2 linked regions of the Homo sapiens genome follow. The protein of the gene in region 2 interacts with the protein of the main gene of each other region in a pairwise test. Each region holds a gene or a part of one and is shown on either strand. Other genes may lie near its edges.

Region 1 (7,984 bases), on a different chromosome or scaffold from region 2:
TGACTCCAAAAGGAAGCTCCAAAGGAAGCTCCATACTCATTAAACAATCACTACCCATCCCCCTCTTCTCGCCAGTCCCTGACAACTACTAATCTTGCAGTGTCTCTACATCCATGGACTTTTTTTTTTTTTGAAATGGAGTTTAGTTCTTGTTGCCCAGGCTGGAGTGTAATGGTGCGATCTCGGCTCACTGCAACCTCCGCCTCCAGGGTTCAAATGATTCTCCTACCTCAGCTTCCTGAGTAGCTGGGATTACAGGCACCTGACACCATGCCCGGCTAATTTTTGTATTTTTGGTAGAGAATGGGTTTTCCCATGTTGGCCAGGCTGGTCTCGAACTCCTGACCTCAGGTGATCCGCCCGCCTCGGCCTCCCAAAGTGCTGGGATTACAGGTGTGAGCCACCGCGCCCGGCCCATGGACTTTTTAAATAGTAAAACTTGACCAGAACAGTTTTTTTGTTTTTTTTGTTTTTTCTGGAGACAGAGTCTCCCTCTGTCGTCCAGGCTGGAGTGCAGTGGTGCAATCTCGGCTCACTGCAACCTCCTCCTCCTGGGTTCAAGTGATTCTCCTGCCTCAGCCTCCCGAGTAGCTGGGACTACAGGCGCCCGCCATCACACCCGGCTAATTTTTTTGTATCTTTAGTAGAGACGGGGTTTCGCCATGTTGACCGGGCTGGTCTTGAACTCCTGACCTCAGGTGATCCGCCCACCTCGGCCTCCCAAAGTGCTGGGATTACAGGCGTGAGCACCGAGCTCGGCCAACCAGAACAGTTTTCTAATGTGGAATGATGTGTTCTTTGCAGTTATTAATCCTCTTTAAATGAATCTTCGCTCATGAGATATTTCAGCTAACCATTTCTCAAGTAAATCTGTGAGTCACTTTAGATAATTCTGTGACCTGTCTCAGGGTCAGAAATTCCTCTCTCTTTGGGTAATTAGATCCATGCTAGATTACAGAACACTGTCCTATGAATTCTCTTTAAGGGAGGATTCCCAAAGCCTGGCCGATGCTGTGAAGTAAACCACTTTCTGTGTCTGCAAGGGGCAAAATGAGTAAGGCCTTAAGAAGACATTTCATTACATTGTGAAATATCTCACACACACACACACACACACACACACACACACACACACACACAAATTTAAAGCCCTAGACCTCCAAAGAGCTGATCCCACAGAAAACTGAAAGTTTATTTTTCAGTCTTTGTATTTTGAAATCTCTTCTGAGATTCCAAACTTTTGCAATTGAGGGGTAAAAAAAAGTGAATTTGGAAACAGAACTAGAAGTCACTGCCGGTTTTAGAGTGTAGCATCATTTCCTTTTGGGGCCCCGTCTCTTTCACATTCTGATTTCCCACCCTTCCTTTGGGGTGTGGAAGACTGGGCAAAAAATAACTTTCTTTTTCCCAGGGTCTATTTGGTGGAATCGCTCTACACTCCTTCAGAGAAATAACTGGGGCAGGGAGATTGCCTTTCCAGCGCACTGTTTTTCTTTCAAAAAACAGTGAACGGTAGAATGCTTCTTAGGGCAAATAAATAAATGTCACCAAGACACACGGAAGGTGTAGACTGGAAAATAATGTCTTTGGTCCCAGCTGTAGAAGCCAGAAGCTTTATTTTTTTAAACACAGACCAATACTGCTTCTCTGGCCAACAGGCAGCAAAGTCCCCATTTTCCACTCTCCATCACCCCATCTTGCATCCTACCCACACTGATTGCATCCCCACCCTCTGGGTGAAAAGCCGACACGCCTCAGACGCTAACAGCACCGGGTCAACCCGGCTTTATTTTAGGGTGGGAGGGTGCGGGGATGAGACTGAGTCCTGGAACCCACGGAGCCCTCCGAATCCCGGAGTAGCTTTACTGCTTTTTGCGGGGTTGGGGGTGGGGGGAGGAAACAGATTTCAGCAGCAAACTCACCCAATCAACCTCACACCTCAAACTCCGGGGAAGCCCGTGCCCAAAATTGTGCCGAATTTTGTAAATGTCCTGAACTGGAGTAAACTTGAGGTGGACAAAAAAAAAAGCACAACTCTAAGACTCCGATCCCCTGGCAAATCAGTGGGAATGCAGGTCCCCGAGGTTTCGGGGAAGGATCGCGCCGAGGCTTCAATCCAGATACACACCCTGACAATGGGATCTCAATAAGGAACTACCCAGGAAGCCGTCGCCGCAGCAAGTGCCCAGGTGATCCTTATCGTGGGCAAGTTTGGAACCGCAGGTACCCCGAGAATCCCGCGCTGGGCGCTCAGGCGAGAGGGCTCCGGGCTCCCGTCCACGCCCACCCGGGGCGTTCTAGGAGGGCTGCGCGCTGGGAGCGGGAAGGGCCCCTGGAAGGCGGCTGCAGCGAGTTCCGGGGCTGAGAGGTCGCTGCCACCCAGGAAGCCCCGACTGTGCCCCACGCAGGGCCTCGGCAGGGCGGCAGGCTAGGGCGGGTTCGGAGGTGACAGCGCCCGGCTTCCTGCGCCAAAAGTGAGGCAACTCCGGAAACTTCCTGGAGCCGGCGCGCGTTTCCTGCAAGCACCGCCCCCGCCGCCCGCACGCTCTAGCAGCCCGCGGGCGCACTGACCTGAGATGGTCTCCTGGTAGCCCTTGGTGAAGAACTGCATGGCCGAGGCCGCCCTCCAGGGCGTCTTGAGCAGCCCTTGCCGCTGGGGGTTCTCGCCCAGCGAGCTCAGGATGGACGAGTAGGCGGCTGCCAGGTTAGGGAGGTTCAGCTCGTTATCCTCCTCGCTGCGGGGCCGCTCGCCCTTCCAGCCGTCCGCGGGCTGCGCGCTCTTGGCCTCGGGCCGCGGGGGCTTCTCCGCCGGCCTGCTGGGCCCGGGCCGCGGCGGATCCCGCTCGGGGAACCCATTGCTGCACCTGGCGCCCCGCGGCTTCTCCGCCGGTGCCCGCACAGGGCCCTTCTCCATGGACCCGCCGCAGCCGCTGCCGTTCGGGAAGGACCCCGGGGCGCTTCGAGGTCTGCGGCTAAACTCCGCCGGTGGCCGCGGACAATGGGCTGTGGCCGGAGTCACCTGAGGAAGGTACGCAACCTGCTTAGATCACACTCCGAGCCGGGAGCGGCCACAGGCTGGAAAGCCCGGCCGCGCCTCCTTTTTATGGCCCGGCGGCTCAGCCTGCGCCGCGGAGCGCTCCCATTGGCCGGCCCCGCCTCGCGTCACGGCCCTCGCCGCGCCCCTCGGCCTCCCGCCCCCGGGGTCCCCAGCAGGGGTCGCGGCTCCGGAGACGCCCGGAGGGGTTCGCAAGCGCAGGGAGGGAAGGAAAAGGGCGCCGGCCCCTAGGATCAGGCGGGACCCCTCCACTTATTGCGGAATGAGCCGAACCCGAAAAGAGGCAGTCGTCCAGGAGCTGGGATCTCAGTGAGAAAGACGCGGTCTGGGCGCCCAGTCGCCCCCTCTTCAGGCCAAGAGGGCGCTGCATTGAAGGGCTCCGGTCCCCTCGCCCTGTGAAAGATCAGCAAACAGGTGGCCTTGCCTGGAGAGAGACCGAGTTAAGCCACCGATTAGGAACCAACTCTTAAGCTTTCAAGGCAAGAGAATAATGTGACTTCAGACTCTTGGGTTTAGTTAAAAACGCACCTGCCACCTAGGGGCCAGGTGGCACCGCTGTCGGGGCAAGTGTCACATCAAGTGGCCCTTATGTGGGTCCCTATGTCTAGAAGGATAGGATTTATGGTTGCTAGAACTTTGATCCTGGAAAAATTGATTTGCAAACGAAGATAGGACTTTCACTTAAAATCCATTTCCGTCGGTGGCTCACGCCTGTACTCCCGGCGCTTGGGGAGACCGAGGCGGGAGGATCGCTTGAGGCCAAGAGTTCGAGACCAGCCTGGAAAACATAGCAAGACCTCATCTCTATAAAACCCATCGCATTTTCTAGAAACGCAGTTGTGCAGATTTGGTGCTCAATTGTTTTACAGTTCCATGCAAAGCGTCTTTCCCCAGATGTTGGTACAAATTGTGAAATGCTATTCACCAACTGAACTCTTAACCAGTGACATCTGCTGTAACTGTTTTCTTTGAGATTAATAAATGGACCTTTTTCCTCACTTGAGGGATTATCTCATAATGCCGAAGGTGAGCTTTAAAACATGTATCAAAATAATATTTTTTTTCTTTTTTTTTTTTTGAGGCTCACTTCATCCTCCGCCTCCTGGGTTCAAACGATTCTCCTGCCTCAGCCTCCTGAGTAGCTGGGATTACAGGCACCTGCCACCATGCCCGGCTAAATTTTTGTATTTTTAGGAGAGGTGGGGTTTTGCCATGTTGGCCAGGCTGGTCTCGAACTCCTGACCTCAGGTGATCCACCTGCCTCGGCCTCCCAAAGTGCTGGGATTACAGGTGTGAGCCACCATGCCTGGCCTAATGTAGATTTTCTGACATAGAAGCAGGTATTAATAGGCTTAGGATCAAACAAACCAATAGGGAAGCCTGTGGAATTATTCTATGCTAACAATGTAGCTTGGTCATTATAATAAGTAATTAGTATTTATGATACATCTGCTCTAGGCGCAGCCCCGTTGGAAACATTCAGGAAAGAAATATGGACATTGCCTAGCCTTGTAGGCACCTTTACTCCAAAATGGAAGAAATGTTCATATCAGTGGGGTTATTTATTTATTTATTTATTTATTTATTTATTTATTTTTAAATTTTAATCTATTTATTTAAGAGCGGGTTATGAGACTGGCTAATTTTTGTATTTTTGGTAGAGATAAGGTTTCACCATGTTGCCAAAGCTGGTCTCGAACTCCAGGGCTCAGGATTATAGGCCTGAGCCACCGTACCCGGCCCAGTGGGGTTTTTAAATAGAGAATATGAACATCCTTTGGAAAACCTCTTTGTCATTTTCCTCTTTATTAAAATTTTTAAATTTTTTATTGTAGGTTTTTATTGGGAGTGGGGCCCTGCAACATTTTTTTCCTCTAACTGTGCTGCCCACTGTCTGCTGATACCTCCTGGTCAGAATTATCTGCTGGGTCTCAAGCTATTTCAAGCATAGTTGAAGACAACATTCAAAGGATGACCTTGCATTTAACAAATGAAAACAAAGATACTAAGTGAGGTACTTTAAAAATGGAGAGAGTAGATAGAGATGCTTTCAGTACGAATTTATTTTTAGTGGCAATCTTTCGTCTTCCTTTAAAAACATGTGTAAAGATTAACTAATATTGTATTCCACAAAGACAGTTTCTAATGAAATTTTTACCCTAAAAATTAACATTTTCTTACACGTATTGCCACTGAGGCACCTGCACCTTTGTTGCAGGACAGGGCCTCTGGATACATGCTAACTTGTAAAATGGAGGCAGTGCCTTTCGGCCAAATGCCCAAAAATAATACAAGAAAACTTTGAAATCACCAACATTATATGAATAATTTAATAGTAAAATGTAGATAGTTGACAAGGATGGTTATAAGTAGCAACAGGAGAAAAAAAGAGGAATAAACCAAAAGGGAAGTAGGTCCCAGATAATTTATTAGCATAAAATGGTTCAACAGTAATATTATGAGCATTTACAGCCAGGAATTGTTACCGCATCCATGTTTTTCACCCAGTAAGGGATTCATTTTCAGCTTGGACCCAGTCTGGGAGTTTCTTTCTACCAAAAAGCCAAGGAATTTTTTAAAGTCTCTAATTTCTAGGACAGCAGCAGAACAAAGAGGCAGATGAGAAAGACACACCAAGTCAGAGACTGAACACTGCAGTGCTACAGAAATGTACAAAGAGTTGTTTGCCAAGTGTGATATGATGATACATGTATATGTAGGTTTTCAGCCATAGTACCTGGTTCATAACTCACAGTCTTTTGTTACAATGTTGGGGCACTTTAGGCCTCAGAAAATAGAATCAATCTCTCTCTCTCTCTCTCTCTCTCTCTCTCTCACCTTCTGCTCCCCTTCCACTCACTAAAGGCAGGACTCTAATCATCTCCCGCCTTTCTGATTACGGATCATAAACCCTCATTGCAAACAGGGTCCTGCCTCATACCCTGGAGGAAGCATGGCTGCACAGAGAGGTCAATCACACCTTGACACGGCTGTCCATGCTTCAATCATGCCTATACAACGAACATAAAAGGCCCAGACGGCAGGGCTCAGGGAGGTTTTGGACAGCTGAATATGTGGAGGTTCCTGGAGGGTGGTGTGCCCAGGGAGGGCATGGAAACTCCATACCTCTTACCCCATACCTCACCCTATGCATCTTTTCATCTGTATCTTTTGTAATATCCTTCATAATAAACTGGTAAACGTAAGTGTTTCCCTGAGTTCTTTGAGTCACTCTAGCAAATTAATTGAACCCAAAGAGGGGGTTGTGGAAACCCCAACTTGAAGCCAGTCAATCAAAAGTTCCAGAGGCCCAGACTTGTGAGTGGTGGAAAGGAGGGGCCAGTGTTGGGGACTGAGCCTTCAACTTGTGGGATCTACAGCTATCTCCAGGTAGGCAGAATCAGAATTGAATTAAATAAGAGGGAGGACACCTAGCTGATGTCCCCTGCTTGGTGTGTGGGAGAAAACCCCCACCCATTTGGTCACAGAGTCTTCTGTGTTGACTGTTGTTGTGGTATAACAGCAGAAGAAAACCACAGTTTCAATTTGTCCAAACACCAAGGGTAATAGACAAACTAACATTGGGTATTTGGCAACAGTAATTGGAAAAAAGCAAATTTAAGTGAACTTGATGGAGGCTCTATACTTGAAATTCAAACTCTGGAGGAGATTTTGGATCAAGGTAGAAAGGTACAAAGAAAAGGTGGCCGGGCATGGTGACCCAAGCCCGTAATCCCAGCACTTTGGAAGGCCAAGGCAGGTGAATCATTTGAGGTCAGTAGTTCAAGAATAGCCTGGCCAACGTGATGGAACCCCGTCTCTAATAAAAAATACAAAAATTAGCCGGGCATGATGGTAGGCACCTGTAGTCCCAGCTACTCAGGAGGCTGAGGCAGAAGAATCATTTGAATCTGGGAGGCAGAGGTTCCAGTGAGCCAAGATCACGCCACTGCACCCCAGCCTGGATGACACAGCGAGACTCCATCTCAAAAAAAAAAAAGGCCCAAGAGCCTCATATTGAGTATAATAAGCCATCCAAAGCCTAAATGTACCCATAAAGGATACCCTAACAGACATGTGTCCCTGGTAGAGAATCTGCAATACCATCTCAGAAGAACAGGCAGATGCTAAGAGGGATGCTAATAGAAAGTGCACCTCAGCGCTGCTGAACTCTGTCCCTGCCTCCACATTACCCCAGAAGAAGGGATGCAACACAGCTCCTCAAGCTCCAGACTGCAGCAGAGTCAGGAAAACAAAAGGGCTTCTGTTATCATGGAAAAACCTGAAGATGTCTCAACAATATCAGAGATACGCAGTGTCAGGAAACAGCCTCCCAAGCATGGGCAGGGGGCAGAGAAACAGCATGGCAACCGTGCAAACACACACCAGCCAAACAAAACAAAAGAAAACCAAGGGGGAACATCATATGGCATGCAGGAGACATAAAGGCAAATAATGCAACTAAGAAGAAAGCAAATCTCATGGAACAGAAGAAAATTCCTCACGAATGTTTGATGCCAGAGACTAACTCAATAAAAGTATAAATTCAGGCTGGGTGCAGTGGCTCATGCCTGTAATCCCAGCACTTTGGGAGGTTGAGGCAGGAAGATCACCTGAGGTCAGGAGTTCGAGACCAGCCTGGCAAACATGGTGAAACGCTGTCTGTATTAAAAATACAAAAATTAGCCAGCGTGGTGGGCACCTGTAATCTCAGCTACTTGGGAGGCTGAGGCAGGAGAATGGCTTGAACTTGGGAGGCAGAGGTTGCAGTAAGCTGAGATCACGCCACTGCACTCCAGCCTGGGCAACAGAGCGAGACTCAGTCTAAAAAAAACAGACAAACAAACAAAAATCATGAATTTAATAAGACAAAAGCCAAAATAATAGAATTGAAAGGGGAGCTATGGATCAACAAAATAAATTGAGGAC
Region 2 (7,274 bases):
GGTTTTGCCATGTTGGCCCTGCTGGTCTTAAACTCCATGCCTCAAGTGATGTGCCTGCCTCGGCCTCCCAAAGTGCTGGGATTACAGGTGTGAGCCACTGTGCCCGGCCTAAATGCTTTTAAGTCCTTGCTCCTCTGCTCACTAGTTAGTGACATTGGGCAACTTAACGTTCTGAGTGTTGGGGGTTTTTTGTCTATAAAATGAGGATAATACGTGCAAAAAAGTTTATTTCAAATAAGTGCCTAGGCTGTAGTAGGGGTTCTGTAAATCAATGACAGTGATTTCTTTGTGTTCCCAGCATTTAGAATGAATGATGCCCAACACAGAATTAAATGCCTGGCAAATTGTTTACTGATTTAAACAGTGGAATTTACTCCATTATTTTACATTGTATTCTGTTAAATAGTTACAATGTGCCAGCGTTATTATTTCATCTTTATAACCTTAGGAGGAAAATCTGTTATTAACATTACTGTTATCATTTTACCAATAAGGAAACTGAAGTTTAGAGGTTGAGAACTTGTCACTTGTTGTGAAGCTGGGGTTCAAAGGCAGTCAAAGTCTGATTCTAAAGTCTCTGCTCATAGCAGTGCGTTTTAAGCCACTCTGACATATCTTGCTTTTCTTTGCTCATGTCATTTTTGTATTTTATTTCAGCCTCTCAGATAAAAAGAGTTATCTTGTATGTACCAAGCTTTTATCACATATGACCAGGTCTTCCTAATTTTAAACTAGTTTCTGAGAACCTGCTGCCATAGCAAGATTTCTGATTTCTGTTTTTTCCCTGGAAAGCTGAGATTCAGTACACCTGTGACGGTGACTATAAATTACCAGATTCTTTCAGGAGGAAATGGAAAGGATCATTTATTTTATCTTTGAAGTTTTGAAAAATCCAAGTGTTCATGATAGAGAGAATTTTTTTTTTTTTTTTTTTTTTTGAGACGGAGTTTTGCTCTTGTTGCCCAGGCTGGAGTGCAATGGTGTGATCTTGGCTAAACTGCAACCTCCACCTCCTGGGTTCAAGCGATTCTGCTGCCTCAGCCTCCGAGTAGCTGGGATTACAGGCATGCACCACCACACCTGGCTAATTTTGTATTTTTAGTAGAGACGGGGTTTCTCCGTGTTGGTCAGGCTGGTCTCAAACTCAGGTGATACACCTGCCTCGGCCTCCCAAAGTGCTGGGATTACAGGCGTGAGCCACCGTGCCCAGCCAAAGAGAATTTCTTAAATTGAATTTAATCTTAGACTCACATCTATACCTGTGTTTCCTGTTGCTGCCATTTTAAACCCTGCCCCTCTACTCAACATCATTCTATTTTGAATCCTCCAGTGACCTTTTTTATCCTGAATTTCTTTGGATTCACATGCATTTATTGTTTATGCATTCGGGGTACAGATAAATTCCTTGGAAGTAAGGAACTGCTTTAATACACAGTGCCTAGTAAATGTACATTGTTCGTAGTTGTAGCATCTAATTTAGTTCTTTGCATGTTGAGACAAGAAATATCTAAATGTAACTTTCATGAAGAAAGATTTAAGATAAAATTTAGGAACTCTAAAAGTTTTTACAAGCTAAAATTCCTTATCAGTGAAAGTTATATAATCTTTCTGTATGCAAAAAAATAATTTTTTTATCCTCTTTTACTTACAGGCACAAGATGCTGGTCTTGGGGTGTCAATTTTACTGTGTGTCAGAGCTCTTCAACTCAGATCAAGTGAAGATGAGGAAATGAAGGCATCAGTTTGTAAAACAATTGCCTGTCTTTTACCAGAAGATTTAGAAGTTAGACGAGCCTGTCAGCTTACAGAATTCTTAATTGAACCCAGTTTGGATGGATTTAATATGTTAGAAGAACTATATTTGCAACCAGATCAAAAATTTGATGAAGAAAATGCACCGGTTCCAAATTCTCTTCGATGTGAGCTCTTACTAGCTTTAAAAGCCCACTGGCCTTTTGATCCTGAGTTTTGGGACTGGAAAACTTTAAAACGACACTGCCACCAACTTTTAGGACAAGAAGCCTCAGATTCTGATGATGATTTAAGTGGCTATGAAATGTCCATTAATGACACAGATGTTTTAGAGTCATTTCTCAGTGACTATGATGAGGGTAAAGAAGATAAACAATATAGAAGAAGAGATTTGACAGATCAGCATAAGGAGAAAAGAGACAAAAAACCTATTGGCTCTTCTGAAAGATATCAGAGGTGGCTTCAGTACAAGTTTTTCTGTTTGTTATGTAAGCGGGAATGTATAGAGGCTAGAATTCTTCATCATTCTAAGATGCATATGGAAGATGGAATTTACACCTGTCCAGTTTGTATTAAAAAATTTAAGAGAAAAGAAATGTTTGTTCCTCATGTGATGGAGCATGTTAAAATGCCACCAAGCAGAAGGGACCGCTCTAAAAAGAAATTACTGTTAAAAGGCTCTCAAAAGGGTATTTGTCCTAAGAGCCCCTCTGCAATCCCAGAGCAAAACCATTCATTGAATGACCAAGCCAAAGGAGAGTCTCATGAATATGTCACATTCAGCAAATTAGAAGATTGCCACCTGCAAGACAGAGATTTGTATCCATGTCCCGGTACAGACTGTTCCCGTGTGTTTAAGCAATTTAAATACTTAAGTGTGCATCTTAAAGCTGAACACCAAAATAATGATGAAAATGCCAAGCACTACTTGGATATGAAAAATAGAAGAGAGAAGTGTACTTACTGTCGACGACATTTTATGTCTGCTTTTCACCTTCGAGAGCACGAACAAGTGCATTGTGGGCCTCAGCCTTATATGTGTGTATCTATAGATTGCTATGCTAGGTTTGGATCAGTAAATGAACTACTTAACCATAAACAAAAGCATGACGATCTGCGTTACAAATGTGAATTAAATGGCTGTAATATTGTTTTCAGTGACTTGGGACAGCTTTACCACCATGAAGCACAACACTTTAGGGATGCATCTTACACATGCAACTTCCTTGGCTGTAAAAAGTTCTATTACTCCAAAATTGAATACCAGAATCACCTCTCAATGCATAATGTTGAAAATTCAAATGGAGACATAAAGAAATCAGTGAAACTTGAGGAGTCTGCAACAGGTGAAAAGCAAGATTGTATTAATCAGCCCCATCTACTTAACCAAACTGATAAATCACATTTACCTGAAGATCTTTTCTGTGCAGAATCAGCTAATTCTCAAATAGATACAGAAACTGCAGAAAACCTGAAAGAAAACAGTGACAGTAATTCTAGTGATCAGTTAAGTCATAGCTCTTCAGCTTCAATGAATGAAGAGCTAATTGACACACTAGATCACTCTGAAACTATGCAGGATGTATTGTTATCTAATGAGAAAGTCTTTGGGCCCTCCAGTTTAAAAGAAAAATGTTCCAGTATGGCAGTTTGTTTTGACGGGACTAAGTTTACCTGTGGTTTTGATGGCTGTGGTTCCACATACAAAAATGCAAGAGGAATGCAGAAACATTTACGGAAGGTTCATCCATACCATTTCAAGCCCAAAAAGATAAAGACGAAAGATCTGTTTCCCTCTTTGGGTAATGAACATAATCAGACAACTGAAAAGTTGGATGCAGAACCTAAACCCTGCTCAGATACAAACAGTGACTCCCCAGATGAAGGTCTAGATCACAATATTCACATTAAATGTAAACGAGAACATCAAGGTTATTCCTCAGAATCCTCCATTTGTGCTTCTAAAAGGCCCTGTACAGAGGATACCATGTTGGAACTTCTGTTACGCTTGAAACATTTAAGCTTGAAAAACTCAATAACACATGGATCTTTCTCAGGGTCATTGCAGGGGTACCCATCCAGTGGTGCTAAGTCTCTTCAGTCAGTTTCATCTATCTCAGACCTTAATTTTCAGAATCAAGATGAAAACATGCCAAGTCAGTACCTTGCACAGTTGGCGGCTAAGCCGTTTTTCTGTGAGCTTCAAGGATGCAAATATGAATTTGTGACCAGAGAGGCTCTGTTAATGCATTATCTTAAAAAGCATAATTATTCAAAAGAAAAAGTCCTTCAGTTAACCATGTTCCAACATCGGTATTCCCCATTTCAGTGTCATATTTGCCAAAGGTCATTTACAAGAAAAACACACCTTAGGATTCATTATAAAAATAAACATCAAATTGGCAGTGACAGAGCAACTCACAAACTATTAGATAATGAAAAGTGTGATCATGAAGGCCCATGTTCAGTAGATAGGTTGAAAGGTGATTGTTCTGCAGAACTTGGAGGTGATCCCAGTAGTAACTCTGAGAAACCACACTGTCATCCTAAAAAGGATGAATGTAGTTCTGAAACAGATTTGGAATCATCTTGTGAAGAAACAGAAAGTAAAACATCTGACATTTCATCACCAATAGGCAGCCATAGAGAAGAACAAGAAGGAAGAGAGGGCAGAGGTAGCAGGCGAACTGTTGCTAAAGGAAATCTGTGTTATATTTTGAATAAATACCACAAACCATTCCATTGTATTCATAAAACTTGCAACTCCTCATTCACCAATCTAAAAGGCTTAATTCGCCATTACAGAACTGTACATCAGTACAACAAAGAACAGTTATGTTTGGAGAAAGACAAAGCAAGAACCAAAAGGGAACTTGTCAAATGTAAAAAGATATTTGCTTGCAAATATAAGGAATGTAATAAACGCTTCCTGTGTTCCAAAGCTCTTGCTAAGCACTGTAGTGATTCTCATAACCTAGACCATATTGAAGAGCCTAAAGTACTTTCCGAAGCTGGATCTGCAGCAAGGTTTTCTTGTAACCAGCCTCAGTGCCCTGCTGTTTTTTATACATTCAACAAGTTGAAGCACCACTTGATGGAACAGCATAATATTGAAGGGGAAATACATTCAGATTATGAAATTCATTGTGATCTTAATGGCTGTGGCCAGATTTTCACCCATCGCAGTAATTACTCACAACATGTATATTACCGACATAAAGACTATTATGATGATTTGTTTAGAAGCCAGAAAGTAGCAAATGAGAGACTACTAAGGAGTGAAAAGGTATGTCAAACAGCTGATACTCAGGGGCATGAACATCAGACCACCAGGAGATCATTTAATGCTAAGTCTAAAAAATGTGGCTTAATCAAAGAAAAGAAAGCCCCAATAAGTTTTAAAACCAGAGCTGAGGCCCTCCATATGTGTGTGGAGCACTCTGAGCACACACAGTACCCCTGCATGGTTCAAGGATGCTTATCTGTGGTGAAGTTGGAGAGCAGCATTGTGAGGCATTACAAACGCACTCATCAGATGAGTAGTGCCTATTTAGAGCAACAGATGGAGAATCTTGTTGTTTGCGTTAAGTACGGTACCAAAATTAAGGAGGAACCCCCTTCTGAAGCAGATCCCTGTATAAAGAAAGAAGAAAATAGAAGCTGTGAATCAGAGCGCACAGAACACAGCCATTCCCCGGGTGACAGTAGTGCACCCATCCAGAACACTGATTGCTGTCATTCAAGTGAAAGGGATGGAGGTCAGAAAGGGTGCATAGAAAGCAGCTCAGTATTTGATGCAGATACTCTGCTCTACAGGGGAACTTTGAAATGTAATCATAGTTCCAAAACCACTTCCCTAGAACAGTGTAATATAGTTCAGCCTCCTCCTCCTTGTAAAATAGAAAATTCCATACCTAATCCCAATGGGACTGAAAGTGGGACTTATTTCACAAGTTTCCAGCTGCCTTTACCAAGGATCAAAGAATCAGAAACTAGGCAGCATAGTTCAGGGCAAGAAAACACTGTAAAAAATCCAACCCATGTCCCAAAAGAGAATTTTAGGAAACATTCACAGCCCCGGTCATTTGATTTGAAGACTTACAAACCTATGGGATTTGAATCTTCATTTCTGAAATTTATTCAGGAAAGTGAAGAGAAAGAAGATGATTTTGATGATTGGGAGCCTTCAGAGCACTTAACATTAAGTAATTCTTCACAGTCCAGTAATGATTTAACAGGGAATGTTGTGGCAAATAATATGGTGAATGACAGTGAACCTGAAGTTGACATACCTCATTCTTCCAGTGACTCTACAATTCATGAGAACCTGACTGCAATCCCACCTTTAATAGTAGCTGAAACAACAACAGTTCCTTCCTTGGAAAACCTGAGGGTTGTATTGGACAAAGCATTAACAGACTGTGGAGAGCTTGCCTTAAAACAGCTTCATTATCTTCGGCCAGTGGTGGTTCTTGAAAGATCTAAGTTTTCCACACCAATTTTAGACTTATTTCCAACAAAAAAGACAGATGAGCTTTGTGTAGGAAGTTCATAAGTAGCAATTTTGTTTTAGTAACAGACTGGCTCCAACACTGCAACATGGGGACATTTGCCAACTCGAACAAAGGCTGAGAAGCAGCCACACCGTTGTTTAGGGTAGAATAGGCTGTGTATTTACATGAATGTATAATATCTATGTCAGCAGTATTGGCTGAGTCCATTAGCTCTCCAGTTGGTTTAATGATTGGGTTTATTTTTGTTTGTTTGTTTATTAAAAAAATGGAACTGTACACTTGTTTGGTGCTAATTAATACATCAAAATATACTGGGGCTTCCTTTTTCAAATTAAGTGTGCATGATTGTATATGGAACAAATACTAAGGTCCCAGGGTGGGAGGGCTAGGGAAAGGGATATGGAGTTCTTACTTGACTTGAATGTGCACCTGAGGGTGCTTTGTGTAATATATTGTACACTACAGCATCTTATATTTTTTGAGTTGAGTTTCAATAAATTACAATTTTTCACCCATTCGTTGTTTACTCATAATGAGCTTTCATGCCACATGTAAACTGAAATTGCACTTGTATTTTCTGAAATATGCCATTCACATTTTACCCCAGTAATTTTTTTATTTATTATTAGCTAAATCATTCAGAACAAGGTTCTTTTTTTTTTTTTTTTTTTTAAGACAGAGTTTCGTTCTTGTTGCCCAAGCTGGAGTGCAATGGTGCAGTCTCGACTCACTGCAACCTCCTCCTCCCAGGTTCAAGTTATTCTCCTGCCCCGGCCTCCCAAAGTGCTGGGATTACAGGCATGAGCCACCGTGCCCATCCCAGAACAAGGTTCTTTTTATCTTAAAATTTTTGTTTTTGTGGAAAGATAATTCTGAGATTAATTAGCTGCGGGAGTCAAGATAGCTCCCAGAGGATGTCCAGATGTTGGCCGAGTAGAAAGGAGAGGATATGCCAACCTAGAACATGAAGGACGTAGCAAATTCAGAGGGCATGTTTCTAGGAAACTA

What was found.
Region 1: the proteins of RLF (region 2) and GCH1 interact in a two-hybrid assay, tested with the Homo sapiens proteins (one study listed by BioGRID and IntAct).

The regions. Positions count from the first base shown.
Region 1 is NC_000014.9:54,899,750-54,907,733, forward strand, and holds the start of GCH1 (GTP cyclohydrolase 1), read right to left. Parts: upstream 3,078-7,984; 5' UTR 2,915-3,077; coding exon 2,572-2,914; intron 1-2,571. UniProt on the Homo sapiens protein: Positively regulates nitric oxide synthesis in umbilical vein endothelial cells (HUVECs). May be involved in dopamine synthesis. May modify pain sensitivity and persistence.
Region 2 is NC_000001.11:40,234,141-40,241,414, forward strand, and holds the end of RLF (zinc finger protein Rlf), read left to right. Parts: intron 1-1,651; coding exon 1,652-6,307; 3' UTR 6,308-6,781; downstream 6,782-7,274. UniProt on the Homo sapiens protein: May be involved in transcriptional regulation.